Regions from separate parts of the Homo sapiens genome. Here region 1 is linked to region 2. A link means that fine-mapping ties the variant in region 2 to the expression of a gene that starts in the linked region. Tissue or cell type: skeletal muscle. Region 2 holds a variant in brackets; the other region holds the start of a gene. All regions are shown on one strand. Distances are from middle to middle.

Evidence for each region. PIP is the estimated chance that this variant, and not a neighbour inherited with it, causes the effect.
Region 1: LINC02453 starts here. The variant in region 2 is fine-mapped to the expression of LINC02453 in skeletal muscle (FUSION, PIP 0.95).

What each region holds. Positions count from the first base shown.
Region 1 is chr12:98,500,688-98,508,845 of GRCh38, forward strand. It overlaps LINC02453 (long intergenic non-protein coding RNA 2453), which reads right to left and starts at 3,168. Exons shown (of 4, transcript NR_038383.1): 1 at 3,073-3,168; 2 at 1,896-1,925. It overlaps TRD-GTC1-1 (tRNA-Asp (anticodon GTC) 1-1), which reads left to right and starts at 2,816; the gene lies at 2,816-2,887. It overlaps TRW-CCA4-1 (tRNA-Trp (anticodon CCA) 4-1), which reads left to right and starts at 3,565; the gene lies at 3,565-3,636. RefSeq lists enhancers at 2,906-3,215, 3,226-3,525, 7,682-8,158.
Region 2 is chr12:98,478,045-98,486,236 of GRCh38, forward strand. It overlaps LINC02453 (long intergenic non-protein coding RNA 2453), which reads right to left. Exons shown (of 4, transcript NR_038383.1): 4 at 7,500-8,192. Among named protein-coding and RNA genes, the nearest start is that of TRD-GTC1-1, 21 kb to the right of the region's middle. The variant C/CA (reference allele first, on the strand shown) is at 4,544.

The sequences.
Region 1 (8,158 bases), 23 kb after region 2:
AGGTTAATTGCCCTCTCTTTTCCTTTCCATTTTCGGATGATGGACAGCAAGTGCTGCGTTCCCTGCTCCCTGATCTCACTGACTCAGACTGCCTCTTACTTTCACCAGGGATGAAAAAGGAGCAGTAACAACACGTGTGTGAGCACTGGCATAGCTTTACGAGAGCTTCAGTGGAAAGGATGTCTCTTCTAAAGGAAGAGATGAAGCTGCTTTTCCCGAGAGTGCAGAACACGGGGCAAACAGTTGATTCAGGAGAACTGGGTTCACTGCCCCATAGCTCTACGAACTGAGAGACTTGGGGAAGTCCCTTCGATTTTACTAGGAAAAGGACGTCATCATAGCTATCACAGTGCCCTTTGGCCCTGGCAAAAGTTTTTGGAGGATCAAAGTGGAAGGAGGCTCCCACACACTGAGAGTTTGTATTGAGGCTTTCGGTGTAGTTAAGAGTGAAACAGGGGCCGGGCGCGGTGGCTCACGCCTGTAATCCCAGCACTTTGGGAGGCCGAGGCGGGTGAATCACCTGAGGTCAGGAGTTCTAGATCAGCCTGACCAACATGGTGAAACTGTCTCTACTAGAAATACAAAATTAGCTGGCTGTGGTGGCACATGCCTGTAATCCAGCTACTTGGGAGACTGAGGCAGGAGAATCGCTTGAACTCGGGAGGCAGACGTTGCAGTGAGCCAAGATTGTGCCATTGCACTCCAACCTGGGCAACAAGAGCAAAACTGCGTCTCAAAAAAAGAAAAGAGAGAGAGAGTGAAAAAGGGCTGAGCGCGGCCGCTTGAGGCCGAGGCGGGTGGATCACTTGAGGTCAGGAGTTTGAGACCAGCCTGACTAACATGGTGAAACCCCCGACTCTACTAAAAATACAAAAGGGAGTGGTGGCGTGCGCCTGTAGTTCCAGCTACTCGGGAGGCTAAGGCAGAGGAATCGCCCGAACCCAGAAGGCGGAGGTTGCAGTGAGCCGAGAGCGTGCCACTGCACTCCTGCCTGGGCGACAGAGCAAGACTCCGTCTCAAATAATAATAATAATAATGAGAGCAAAAAAGAAAGAAAAGCCAAAACAAGCCTCAGAAACTGCCATTTGTTTAATATCTGCATTAAAAAAATTATCCCTTCCATCAGATGAAAAATACCTTATAATTTATGATGGATAATACATTAATTCGTAGCACACTAGAAACAAGGGATTCCTTAAGACACATATGTGGGGTTTTTGTTGTTGTTGTTGTTGTTGTTGTTATTTTTATTATCTTTAAGGATAATTTGTTGGGTAGGGGTCAGTGAGTTGGGAGTCCTGATTGGTTGGGTCGGAGACGAGACACGTAAGTTTAAGTTCTATAATGAAACGCTTTCAATCATGTCAGTTTATCTGTGCCTATAAACACACTCCTTTAGAGAAAATCAAAAGTTTATAGCCAGGCGCGGTGGCTCACGCCTGTAATCCCAGCACTTTGGGAGGCCGAGGTGGGTGGATCACCTTAGGTCAGGAGTTCGAGACCAGCCTGACCAACGTGGTGAATTACCATCTCTACTAGAAACACAAATTGAACGGGCGTGTTTGTGGGCACCTGTAATCCCAGCTACTCGGGAGGCTGAGACAGGAGAATCGCTTGAACCCGGGGGACGGAGGTGGTAGTGAGCCAAGATCGCACCACTGCACTCCAGCCTGGGCAACAAGAGTGAAACTCCGTCTCAAAAAAAAAAGTTTACATATAAGGCTCTCTTAGTATCCCTGGGAAGAGGGTTCATCCTGTCTATGAACGGGTTTAGGATGACACAAATTATCAAATTATCCGATTAGTGCACTTTCCTAACCCATATGTTTAATCAGTGGCACATCCTGGTTTTGAATTATTTAAACGCATTATTATTTAGCCATTCACATACTTACGTTTGTCACTTCCAGTTAAACTGTAGCCACCTACAGAGAGCGAAACAGAAGTCGGCTGATAAAATTTTGATAAAATTTCATTTGCCCGCAGCTGGTCATTTCATTGGGCGCTTTTGTGTTACAAAAGTGTGTGAATTGGCCGGGCGCGGTGGCTCACGCCTGTAAATCCCAGCACTTTGGGAGGCCGAGGCAGGTGGATCACTAAAGGTCACGAGTTCGAGACCAGTCTGGCCAACATGGTGAACCCTCCCCCCCCCCACACACACACACACACCCCGCGTCTCTAGTAAAATACAAAAATTAGCCAGGCATGGTGGTGCGCGCCTGTAATCCCAGCCACTCGAGAGGCTGAGGCGGGAGAATCACTTGAGCCTTGGAGGTGGAGGTTGTAGTGAGCCCAGATCGCAACACTGCACTCCAGCCTAGGGGACAGAGCGAGACTTCCTCTCAAAAAAAAAAGACTTATGAATTGTTTGAAGAGGCACGAGACCGTGGCAACCCTAACTGTCCCCGACATCTGGCAGCCATATGCTATCCTTGAACTTGAACTTCAGAGTGAAAGTATAAATTTGTAAGGGGAAGGCTCAGCCGCAAGTCACATACCAGTGGTCAGTTAAAAAAAAAAAACTCAGGACGGCAACCTAAATCATTTAGAACGCGTCAAGAGCCTCGGAAAAACTATTTTCACACACTTCTCTAGCACTAACATGGGAAGCGCGTTTCCTTCACATATTCCACACCTTTTATTCTTCCCACCAACATCAAGAATACAAAGCGCCCAGAGAGGACAATAAGCCTAAGCAGCGGCTCCAAGAGACCGGACTTTCGTACTTCCCGGGGGCAGGCGGAAGGTTACGGAGCGCTGGAAGGATCTTACTGCTCCTTGAAGGGCTGTCTGAGAAAATACACAGCCTAACGACTCCTCGTTAGTATAGTGGTTAGTATCCCCGCCTGTCACGCGGGAGACCGGGGTTCAATTCCCCGACGGGGAGGTGTGTAGCTGCACTTTTTTGGCGACAGTTATTATTTTCTGTATCATTCAATGACAGGACACTGCTGTTAAACATAATATGCTAAACCAGCTCCCTTAAGTGCACAACCCTGTCTTCAAAATGGTGACTTTTAACCTTAATGCCCACCATGAAGTGAAAGCCTCCCCTGAGAGAAAATGCCTTACATTGTTTGCAGGAAGGGAGGAAAGGGAAAAAGAAAACGCTCTGAAGGCCTCTGCCCTTGCCTCCAGCCGCCATCTTGCGAAGGCCTGCGCCGGCTTAGTGGCGCCCCGCCAGATTACAACTCGAGGTCGCGAACTCAGCGCGCGGAACCTGTTGGGGGAGGGGAGAGAGGGCGGAGTCTCGCGACTAACGGGGCGGGGGCAGGGCGGGTAAGAACGGAAATCATTTGGTAAAGAAAAGGAAGGGCCAATTTCCTTTGATCCTGGAGACCCGACTAAACGGGAAGCCCCGTTCTCCCGCTTCCGCTGGTTACGTCCCAGCCTTGGTTAGAGGACTAGCAGTCAGGAAAGTTTGGACGCTGAAGGAATCGGTCTCCTGGTCCGACAGATACTGGGTGGAGGGGCAGAGAGTAAATGGAAGAGAAAGACTGGTACCCCTGGAAGAAACGCCATTTACTGGTGTCCTAAGAAACTGCGCGAGCCACAGCCCAGCAGGACCTCGTGGCGCAACGGTAGCGCGTCTGACTCCAGATCAGAAGGCTGCGTGTTCGAATCACGTCGGGGTCAAACTTTTTTTTTTTCCTCCTGTATTTTAAACTACCGACTACTAGAAGCCGAGGTGTATTCCTGCCGCCAATTTTCTTGAATGTTAGAATTAAGTTTTCCTCTTTCAGGTATTATGATACTAATCCTTGGTTTGCAGGAAGATATGATTTACTCTATATCGAAGAGCCTCAAGGCTGATGTTTTTATCATTTGGCCTTTTAAAGTGAGTTTTTTTGTCACTTAACATGCATAATGTGTAAAGAGGTGGACTATTACTGCTGTGCATTAGTGGGTGTATCAGTCCACTAGTCTATCACAGGAAGTGTACAATATACTGTACAAGCTGTTTTTTCCAAACAGTTTTAGGCTGTTTGCCTTTTGAAAGAGAGTACAATAGTGTACAATTTCTAATTTTGAATATTATGCTAATCAAGTGTCTTAGCCCTTACCATGTGCCAACACTGTGAACAACCTCACAATGTGTGACTATTATCCCACTTTTACAAATGTGGCTGTGGCTCACAGGGTTAGTGACCTGCCAAGGGTCACCCAAGATTCTGAACCAGGTGAGGGACTCTGGATCCCTCTTTATAAATACTTTATAATAAAGGTGGAAACAAACAGTTGAAAGAATGTGTGACTGCCAGGCTCAGTGGCTTACACCTGTAATCCTAGCACTTTGGAAGGCCAAAGTGGGTGGATCACGAGGTCAGGAGTTCAAGACCAGCCTGACCAACATGGTGAAACCCCATTTCTACTGAAAATACAAAAATTAGCTGGGCATGGTGGGGTGCACCTGTAATCCCAGCTACTCCGGAGGCTGAGGCAGAAGAATTGATTGAACCCGGGAGGCGGAGGTTGCAGTGAGCCTGGGTGACCAAGCAAGACTCCTTCTGGAGGTGGGTGGCGGGGAGGAATGTGGGAAAAGCTGTTGGACTGGGCGCCTTTTATGTTTTCACCGATTATGCGAGTGATGACTAGTCACCACTTTTGACTATTAATCTCTTTAATAGCAGGAAGCAAAGCTTGCTCGTTCACATTTGCAAGCTCCAGGACTCTTAGTACTAAATAGTGCCCTACACGTAAGTGTCAAATATTTGTTGAACAGAAAATGAATAGCAAGACTATGAGAAATTAATAGTTTTAGATTTTGATGATATGTTTTGTAAAATTCCTGAGGTTTTCTGCTTAGTATTTTGAAAATACCAAACACTAATTTCTTTTGATTCAACCTAATGTAGCAGTATACCTGGAAATTATATTTGCACATGGTGTGGTTTGTTCTTCCCTCTCCTGTTTGGATTAAAATTAGATCATCCATTTCAACGGGTATTTATGGACTGTCAACTCTGATGAGCCTGATACTGTGCTAAGTACTAAGGATGAGGATACACTGAGTAAAAATGGGTTTTTTTGAGCATCAGGAGACAGATATGTTAAGCCACCAAACGCCATAATGTGTTGGGGTAAGTTCATGTTACTTGGTAAGAACCATGAAAGTAACATGAACAGAGTGGTATGGGGGTGCTAAAACAGTGGACAGTAACTCCACATTGGGTTGTATGAGGCTATAACAAGGTGATACAACCTCTCCATCTACATCACAAAAATATGGTTTTGTCCAAATGAGTTAACATGATTGGTCCAAGCTACGATATATGCAGTATATGCAAATGATGCCAGAGGGAAGAAATGGCTTCTGTTATGGGCTGAATTTTTTTTTTTTTTTTTTTTTTGAGATGGAGTCTCACCCTGTCGCCCAAGCTGGAATGCAGTGGCAACCTCCGCCTCCCAGGTTCAAACGATTCAGCCTCCCAAGTAGCTGGGATTACAAGTGCACCCCACTACACCCAGCTATTTTTTTGTTTGTTTGTTTGTTATCTTTAGTAGAGACAAGGTTTCACCATGTTGGCCAGGCTGGTCTTGAACTCCTGACCTCATGATCCACCTGCGTCAGCCTCCCAAAGTGCTGGGATTACAGGCGTGAGCCACCACACCCAGTTTATGGGCTGAATTTCATCTCCCCAACATTCATATGTTGAAGCCCTCACTCCTAGTACCTCAGAATGATCGTAAGACCTGATTAAGTACGCTAGGTGCAGTGGCTCACGCCTGTAATCCCAGCACTTTGGGAGGCCAAGGCAGGTGGATCACAAGATCAGGAGTTGGAGACCAGCCTTGCCAACATGGTGAAACCCTGTCTCTACTGGAAATAGAAAAATTAGCTGGGCGCGGTGGCGGGTGCCTATAATTCCAGCTACTCGGGAGGCTGAGGCAGGAGAATTGCTTGAACCCGGGAGGCAGAGGTTGCAGTGAGCCGAGATCGCACCACTGCACTCTAGCCTAGGTGACAGAGCAAGACTCTCTTTTAAAAAAAAAAAAAAAAAGACATTATTAAGTAAAAATGAGGCCATTAGGGTGGGCCCTAATCCAGTCTGACTGGTGTCATATTTATAAGAGGAAATTTGGACACACAGACACCAAGGATGTGTGCACACAGGGGAAAGGCCATGTGAGGATACAGCAAGAGAGTAGCCATCTACAAGCCAAGGTCTAGGAAGAAGCCAACCCTGCTGGCCTCTTGATCTTAGACTTCTAGCCTCAAGATCTCTGAGAAAATAAATATCTGTTTACTTTTATTATGGTAGCCCTGGCAAACGAATACAGCTTCCGTCAAGAACTACTAGTTCTGCAGAATGGCTGGAGAGGTAAATAGGCGTCAGCATACAGGATCAGTGTGCCATTCCAACTAATTTAGATTTTATTCTGAGGGCAATGCAGAACTATAATTCATGACTAAGACAATCCAGCCAGCTTCACAAAGACTAAAAAATGGCCAAGAACTGTTCCTGGACCACCATCCTGGGAATAAGTTAGAAATGCAAATTTTCAGGCCTCACCTCAGACCTACAGTCTCAGAAAATTGGGTGTGGGGCACAGCAACAAACCTTCCAGCCGTTTTGATGCAAGCTAAAGTTTGAGGACCTCCGGCCTATAAAGCAAGGCAAGACTAGACGTCCTACTTACCCCACAGGTTAAAAGGATCAAATAAGATAAAATACATCAAAATGTTTTTGAAGCTGTTATACATGTCATTATTAATACTGTTATGGCTCTAAAACTGTCACTTCCCAGGTCCCAGATTCTTTCCCAAGGCTGGACATCTGTAGTTTTTTAGAATGCTCCATCTGATGACTTTCTATAACTTTGAAATGACTGCAAATCCAACACTTTTTAACTTAATCTTCTATACTCATGATATAGGGATGATATACGGAAAGAGTTTTATAGGAAAGGTGGAAACAAAGAGCTATCAAGAGCTATGAAGTGTCAGGATTTGAACTGAAACATGGACCTGTCTAGAAAAGACAGCTCTGTGGATTTGTTCTATTTCACTAAGAAATGTCTATTCATGTATTCTTGCAAGAGGACTTATCCACTACTATAGAATGCTCTGAGCATTTATTTCACCTGTTTAATAGCCTTGCTTTCTTTTCTGAGAGTATTTTAGTTACTTAAGTCCTGTGAAAGAAAAATCTCGGTGTTACTGGGGTCCCAATCCAGACCACAAGAGAGGGTTCTTGAACCTCACACAAGAAAGAATTCAAGGCGAGTCCATAAAATGAAAGCAAGTTTATTAGGTAAAGGAATAAAGAATGGCTACTCCATAGGCAGAGCAGCCCAGAGGGCTGCTGATTGCCCATTTTTGTGGTTATTTCTTCATTATATGCTAAACAAGGGGTGGATTATTCATGCCTCCCCTTTTTAGACCATATAGGGTAACCTCCTGACATTGCCATGGCATTTGTAAACTGTCATGGTGCTGGTGGGAGTGTAGCAGTGAGGACAACCAGAGGTCACTCTCATCGCCATCTTGGTTTTGGTGGGTTTTGGCAGGCTACTGCAACCTGTTTCACCAGCAAGGTCTTTATGACCTGTGTCTTTTTTTTTTTTTTTTTTTTTTTTTTTGAGACAGAGTCTCACTCTCGCCCAGGCTGGAGTGCAGTGGTGCAATCTCAGCTCACTGCAACCTCCACCTCCCAGGTTCAAGCAATTCTTCTGCCTCAGCCTCCTGAGTAGCTGGGACTACAGGCACGCGCCACCACGCCCAGCTAATTTTTGTATTTTTAGTAGAGACAGGGTTTCACCATGTTGGTCAGGCTGGTCTCGAACTCCTGACCTCGTGATCCACCTGCCTTGGCCTCCCAAAGTGCTGGGATTACAGGCGTGAGCCACCGTGCCCGGCCTATGACCTGTATCTTCTGCCGACCTCCTATCTCGTCTTGTGACTTAAAATGCCTTAACTGTCTGGGAATGCAGCCCAGTAGGTCTTTTCTTTTTTTTTTTTTTTTTTTTTTGAGACGGAGTTTTGCTCGTTGTCCAGGCTGGACTGCAATGGCGCGATCTTGGCTCACTACAACCTCCGCCTCCCGGGTTCAAGCGATTCTTCTGCCTCAGCCTCCTGAGTAGCTGGGATTACAGGCATGTGCCACCACGCCCAGCTAATTTTGTATTTTTAGTAGAGACAGGGTTTCTCCATGTT
Region 2 (8,192 bases):
AAACTGGCATTCTGTGATTGTAATGGAAAACAGATAAAGCAGGAGGAAGATGTAGGAAGATGGTGAGTATGAGAGAGGCATTTATAAATTATCAGAATATTAGTACTAATCCTTCTTGGCTTTTTTAAACCAGAAAAGGGAGCTCTGAATTTAATTCCCAAACTGTAATTTCTGGGACAAAAACTACCTAATGTACTATAATGGTTACATTTTATATCATCAGCTTTGATTGTCCTACATAAACACCAGTAACAATACCAATAAGAAGATCAATAATAATAGTAATATAAGTTTGTAATCAGTGACTTATTCACCATACGCCAAGCACTAGGTTAAGTGCTTTATGCTTTATCTCATTTAATTTTTTTTTTTTTACACGGGGTCTCTATCACCCAGGCTAGAGTGCGGTGGCACAACCATTCCTCACTGAAGCTTCGAACTCATGGCCTCAAGTGATCCTCCTGCCTCAGCCTCCCAAGTAACTGGGACTACAGGTGCATGCCACCACACCCAGCTAATTTTTTTATTTTTTGTAGATACATGGTCACACCATGTTGCTCAGACTGGTCTTAAACTCCTGGACTCAACGGATCCACCTGCCTTGATCTCCCAAAGTGCTGAGATTACAGATGTGAGCCACCGTGCCTGGCCTATCTCATTTAATCTTAACAGCACCCCTGTGATGTAGCCACTATTATCATACATATTTTACAAATGATGAAACAGGCTTACGAAGGTAGAGAAGTTACCCAGAATGACTCAGGTGGGAAGCTATGGGGCTGGACTTGAACTAAGGTATACCTGACTCCATGCTCTTAAGCCTGTTTGTTACTCAATTTGACATGTGTTCTATTCACAGATGCTGTATTAGTCTGTTCCATTCTCACATTGCTATAAAGAACTACCTGATCACCCACTACCCACACGCACTTTGGGAGGCCAAGGTGGGAGGATCGCTTGAGCCCAGGAGTTCAAGACCAGCCTGGGCAACATAGCGCAACCCCATCTCTACAAAAAATACAAAAATTAGCAGGGCATGATGATGCATGCCTGTAGTCCCAATTACTCAGGAGGCTGAGGCAAGATGATCGCGTGAGCCCTGGAGGTAGAGGCTGTAGTGTGCCAAGATCTCATCACTGCACTCCAGCCTGGGCGACAGAGTGAGACCCTATCTCAAAAAAAAAAAAGAACTGAGACTGGGTAATTTATGAAGAAAGAGGTTTAATTGACTCATAGTTCCACAGGCTGTATGGAAGCATGACTAGACCTCAGGAAACTTACAATCACGGCAGGTGAAGGGGAAGGAAGCACATCTTACTATGGCAGAGGAGAGAGAGAGAGAAAAGGGGGAAGTGCTACACACTTTTAAACCATCAAATCTTGTGAGAACTCACCCACTATGATGAGAATAGCAAGGGGGGAAACTGCCCCCATGATCCAATCAGCTCCCAACAGGTCCCTCCCCCAACATTGGGAATTACAATTCAAGATGAGATTTGGGTGAGGGCATAGAGCCAAATCATATCAGCATCTTTTGCTCAGAATTCCCATGTCTGGGGAATTCTCCACATTATAAGTCTCACCATCAAAGGTGGAAATCAGAAACTGGACTTCTCAGCCCTTCTTGCAGCTGGCATGCTGACTTGTGGCACAAGCCTTACTACCCAGATACACCCATATGAAGATTCAATTTGCAGAAGAACAGTATGAGAAAACAGGCAGTGCACAGAACCCATGCTTCCAGGGAGCGCTCCAGTGGAGGTGCCATTCCCATGAAGGTCTTCACAGCAGACAGCAGTGGAGGGGAGGGTGTTCTAACAGGGTCTTCAGTGACAGACACTGTAATGAAATCTTTGCTGTATCCACCAAGTCATTTGTTTCTGACTGTCAAGCTGCCAAGCCTAATTCTGGCCCTCCCAGAGTTTCTGTGAGCTTTAAGTTAGACCTCAATAAATTGTATTTCTCTCTTTTTTTTTTTTTTTTTTTTTTGATGTGGAGTCTCACTCTGTCACCCAGGCTGGAGTCCAGTGGCGCGATCTCGGCTCACTGCAAGCTCCTCCTCCTGGGTTCAAGCAACTCTCCTGCCTCAGCCTCCCGAGTAGCTGGGACTACAGGCACGCACCACCACGCCTGGCTAATTTTTTGTATTTTTAGTAGAGATGGGATTTCACCGTGTTAGCCAGGATGGCCTTGATCTCCTGACCTCCTGATCCGCCCACCTCAGCCTCTCAAAGTGCTGGGATTACAGGCGTGAGTCACTGCACCCGGCCTATTTCTGCTTTAACTAGCCAAAGTTTTGTTACATGGGACTAATAACCTGACTGGCACAATCTCTTCAAAACTCAGGAACTAATATTTCAAGCAGAAGTACAGAGATCTGTTTGTTCTGTTTTTCACAAGCTACAATCAATTTCATTATTAATGATTTGTTTTAAATGCACACACTTTTTCTAAGTGGGTGAGTCTTCTAATAATTCATCAAAAGTAGCAGGACTAGCTAAACTCGTCAGCTACATAGAGAGGTCTGCTGACTTTTCCCCCAACTGAGAAGCATTTCTTTCATGAGTAGAAATCCCAAAACACTTCAAATATACATTTTACCCTTTGGATATATTTTCTTTCTTTGCTTCCTTTGCTATTAATATTAATGTAATATATCTGGTTCTAACTGTGAATTTAATCAAATTCTTATTCTTTTGTCTTCACTTTATTCCTAAGGCCAAACTCTGAAACTTTTGCTAATTCCTGTCAGATATTTCATTCTCATAAAATGTCATCCTCGTCATCTCTCCTACTGATGGATTAAATGACATTACATAATTGTGAGGCATTTAGAACACTTTTTAAAATCTTATTTTTCCTACTGGTTGTCCACTGATCAACAGTCTGCCATGTTACATGCGGTATCCTTACATGAGGAACATGGCAGACAGAGTTGGTTGCCTTCTTGACAGCCATTTCCCATTATTTCTTGCTCAAAGAGCTTCAACTTGTGCAGGCATAGGCAGAAATATGCTCTTCCCCCAGCCCCAGCTAATTAATCCTGATGGTTTCCCTTTCCTTTTGCTGTGATTTAGGGTAGGCATCAGGTAGGTATATAAATTTGCCCAATCACTCTGGTCTAACTTTAAAACAATTTATGGTCCTCATAAAATAAGACGAATGCATGAAGAAGAGCGTCTGTACTCTCTTTTTCCTAATTTAGACATCATGCACGGATGTGATGTTTGCAGTTGCAGCAGGCATTTTGTAACCATGAAGAATTAAAAAATAAAAATAAAAAATAAAAATATAATGCCAGGCGCAGTGGCTCACAGCTGTAATCCCAGCACTTTGGGAGGCCGAGGCGGGCAGATCACGAGGTCAGAAGTTTGAGACCAGCCTGGCCACCATGGTGAAACCGCGTCTCTACTAAAAATACAAAAATTAGCCAGGCGTGGTGGCATGCACCTATAAGCCCAGCTACTGAGGGGGCTGAGGTGGAAGAATCACTTGAACCCGGGAGGCGGAGGTTGCAGAGAGCCGAGATCGCACCACTGCACTCCAGCCTGGGCAACAGAGTGAGACTCTATCTCAAAAAAAAATAAAATAAAATAAAACTAAGTGTTGAGGATGTGATGGTCAGGAGAGCAGCCAGTAGAAGTCAGTGATTCACATAACTTCACCTGCAAGCCATGGAAAAATCTCAGCAATCTAAGGCAAGACACTGCCTTCAATCCCAGCTGCTGACAGCACCAAAACAGGAAACTCTCAAGATTTTGCCTTCAGCCCATGTGTCTGCCTTCAACTGCCTCTGTTGAATAATGGTTTTTCTTTTCTGCTTTCCTTCTCACACAAGTGCCTCTCATTGGCAAACTCCAACTTGGAATCAAATGAAGGAGGGGATTCTGTCACATGTAACTACAGGTTTCTCTTCTTTAATGCAGAGCGGACTCTAGAAGGGATAATGGAGAGGTATAGCTGGACAACAGACAATCCAGCACAATGAAAGTGAAATGATGCCTTCAAAATTTTGAGGGCTAATAACTTCCAACTAGAATTATATTCTCAGCTAAGCTATCAATCAAGTATAAACATAAAATTGAATCCAGGCATGGTGGCTCACACCTGTCATCCTAGCTGCTTGGGAGGCTGCGGCAGGAGGATCCCTTGAGCCTAGGAGCTCAAGGTTACCATAAACTATGATCACATCACTGCATCCCATCCTGGGTGACAGAGCAAGACCCTATCTCTAAAAATAAAAATATAAAGGTTTTTTTTGGCTGGGCACAGTGGCCCACACCTGTAATCCCAGCACTTTGGGAGGCCAAGGTGGGCAGATTGCCTGAGGTCAGGAGTTCAAAACCAGCCTGGCCAACATGGCGAAACCCAGTCTCTACTAAAAATACAAAAAAAATTAGCCAGGCGTGGTGGTGGGTGACTGTAATCCCAATTACTTGGGAGGCTGAGGCAGGAGAATCACTTGAACCCAGGAGGTGGAGGTTGCAGTGAGCCAAGATCGCACCACTGCATTCCAGCCAGGTGGCAGAGTGAGACTCCGTCT[C/CA]AAAAAAAAAAAAAAACAGAAAAAGAAAAAAAAAAGTTTTTTAGACATAAAAGGTCTGAAAAAGTTAACTTCCGTGTACCCATTCTCAAGAAATTTCAAGAAGATTGACTCCACCAGAATAAGACGAAAGCAAGAGAGAGTGTGAATTAAGAGTAAAGAGGAAGAAATGAGATGCAAGAAAGAAGCAATCCAACACGAGAGAAATAAAAAGGGTCCTCAGGAGGATGATAAAAAGAGGTCCTTGAATGACAGCTATGTGTCAGATGCAGAGGACAGTCAATCCAGATGGGAGCAATGTGACACAAGATGCAGACATCACAGGAGCCATCTCGAAGATACCCTTTGCCATTGGACCATCTTTTTGAGGCCTGGTGAATCTGACCTAGATTTTGTCTGTGCTTGGCACATCTTGACTATGTACCAATGGAGTTTCTGCTCTCCTCACCATGACAAGCAGAATTCTAAAATGACCTCCATAATCTCCACCCCCTAGTTATGAGTAGGTTTATGTCACCTTGCATGACACAAAGTTTTGTAGATGTAATTAAGGCGACTAATCAGTTGACTTTAAGACAAAGGATTATCCTGGTAAACCTGACTTAATCACATGAGCCCTTTAAAGGCATTTTAAGAGCATTTTCTCTGGCTGGTAGCAGAAGAGAAAGCCAGAGAGATTCTAAGCACAAGGGAGACTCAACATAAGGGAGACTCATCATAAGGAAGAGTCTCCAATGCTGAGTGGAGGGGGCCACCTGAGAGCAGCCTCTACGAGCTGGCAGCAGTCCCCACTGACAGCCAGAAAGAAAGTGAAGGCCAGGCACAGTGGCTCACGCCTGTAATCCCAATACTTTGGGAGGCCAAGCGGGCAGATCACTTGAGGTCAGGAGTTCAAGACCAGCCTGGCCAACATGGTGAAACCCCGTCTCTACTGAAAATACAAAAATTAGCCAGGCATGTTGGCAGATGCCTGTAATCCCAAGTACTTGGGAGGCTAAGGCAGGAGAATCGCTTGAACCCAGGAGGTGGAGGTTGCTGTGAGCCCAGACTGTGCCATTGCACTCCAGCCTGGGCAACAGAGAGAAACTCTGTTAAAAAAGAAAGAAAGAAAGAAAGAGAGAGAGAGAGGGAGGGAGGGAGGGAGGGAGGGGGAAGGGGAGGGGAGGGGAGGGGAGGAGAGGAGAGGAGGAGCCTCCAGTGCTGCACCTGCAAGGAAATGAACTCTGCTAACAACTTGAGCTACCTTGGAAATGAATCTTTCCCTAGGGGAGCCTCCAGAGGAGGAGGCAGCCAACCAATGTCTTGATTTCAGCCTAATGAGACCTTGAGGAGAGGAACCAGCTAAAATGTGCCAGGCTCCTCACCTGTAAAAACTATGAGACAATAAACGTATGTTGTTTTAAGCTGCTGCATTGGTGATAATTTATTATGTGGCAATAGAAGACTAACACACCCACCATGACCTGCTGTCTTCACGAACTGAGGAAATTCACCTTACCCCATAGAAGGGGTTTGCTTTGATTTCTTCTTGAAAGTAGGTAAGAAACCATGGCGAGCTTGGGAGCTGCAGATAGAGAGTCTCCCACTTCTTGACTATGTTTCCGCAGATATCCATTACCTGACCCAAACTGCAGCCCTGCCAGATGTCCCAGCTGTGATATATCCTGTGTTTCCCAGAACTCACTCTTGACCCTGACCGCAGACTTCCCAAAAGGAGCTCTTGCATTCTCTCAGGAACGCTGCCACTGAACGTGACCCAGAGCTTATCTTTTGAGAGCCTGCTGCAATGGTTGGGCTTGCCACTCAGTTGTCAAAAATAAGCAATATAAGGCCAGGAGCCATGGCTCACACCTGTAATCCTAGCACTTTGGGAGGCTGAGGCAGGCAGATCACTTGAGTCCAGGAGTTCAAGACTAGCCTGGGCAACGTGGCGCAACCCTGTCTCTACCAAAAAAGAAAATACAAAAATTAGCCGGGCATGACGGTGCATGCCTGTAGTCCCAGCTAATTGAGGAGCTGAGGTGGGAGGACTGCTGAAGCCTGGGAGGTCAAGGCTGCAGTGAGATGTGACTGTGCCACTACACTCCAGCCTGAGCAACAGATCAAGACTCTCAAAATAACAACAACAAAGATATTTTTTGTTCTCATCAAATACAAAAAATAAACAATCTAATATTTAAGGATACATATAGGTGGTAAAACTATAAAGCAAAGCAAGAAATAATTATCAAAAAATCAGGATAGTGGTTATCTCTTGAGGAGGAAGAAGAAGATGATGATTAAAGTAGAGCACGCAGAGGATTTTCAAGTCACTGGCAAAGTTTTACATGTTCATCTGGATAACAGGTACACAGGTGTTCATTTTACCATTATTCTATAAACTCTCTGTATTTTTATACAGTCTTCTGTGGTATTATGCTTAACACATAAATGCTTAATAAAAGATAGCGTTATTATAAATTGAGGAAATGCAAGACATGAAACTACAAATTAAAATTCCATCCGGCCGGGCGCAGTGGCTCATGCCTATAATCCCAGCACTTTGGGAGGCCGAGGCAGGCGGATCACGAGGTCAAGAGATCGAGACCATCCTGGCCAACATGGTGAAACCCCATCTCTAGTAAAAATACCAAAAAAAAAAAAAAATTAGCCAGGCGTGGTGGCAGGCGCCTGTAATCCCAGCTACTTGGGAGGCTGAGGCAGGAGAATCGCTTGAACCCGGGAGGCGGAGGTTGTAGTGAGCCGAGATCATGCCACTGCACTCCAGCTTGGGCAAAAAGAGCAAAACTCTGTCTCAACAACAACAAAAAAATAAAATAAAATTCCATCCTGACTGCTTTGTCCTTGAGTTTCTTTCCTTAGAATTTACTAGAGTGTTAAAAGTTTCATAGGAAATAGTCTCTGAATATCAGGAACACTTTAGAGTTTCCACCAGTGGGGAAAAGATGAGCTATTCAATAAACAATATTAGATTTTATTCATATCTCAAATCTTACACCAAAATAAATTTCAGATAGATCAAGACTTACATGTGAAAAAAATGAAAACTTGAAAGTAAGACAAGAAAATATGGGAGAATTATTTTACAATCTGGGAAAGCCTTTCTAAGCATGATGCAAAATATAGATGCAATAAAACGAAAGAAGCTAAATATAAATACATGTTTTAAATTCTGCTTAGTAACAACACCAGAAACAAACTCAAAAGGCATGAAAAGCTTGGAACAACTATTTGTATTCCTATGGATTGATAAGAAAAAGACCAGTAATTCACTGAAAAAAAAAAAATGGGCAGAGGATATGAACAGACAGTTCTTAGAAATTTCAAATGGCTTTTAAACATATGAAAGTATGCTCTATCTTTCCATAATAAAGAAAATGCAAATTTAAAATACCAGATTGGCACAGATAAAAATTTTGATAACACCATGTGGGTGAAGGTTAGAGAAACAGATGCTCTCACATATTGCTGGTGGGAGTGTAAACTGGCTCAACCCCTGCGGAGAACAACTTGACGATATCTATCAAAATCTAAAGCGCATGTTTTGGCAGGCGCCATGAGTTGTGTACCCCAAAATCATTGCTCCATACTCCTTGTTAATAGAATCCATTTGTTCAAGTGGCAATGTGCCAAGCCCCAAGAAACGAATTTA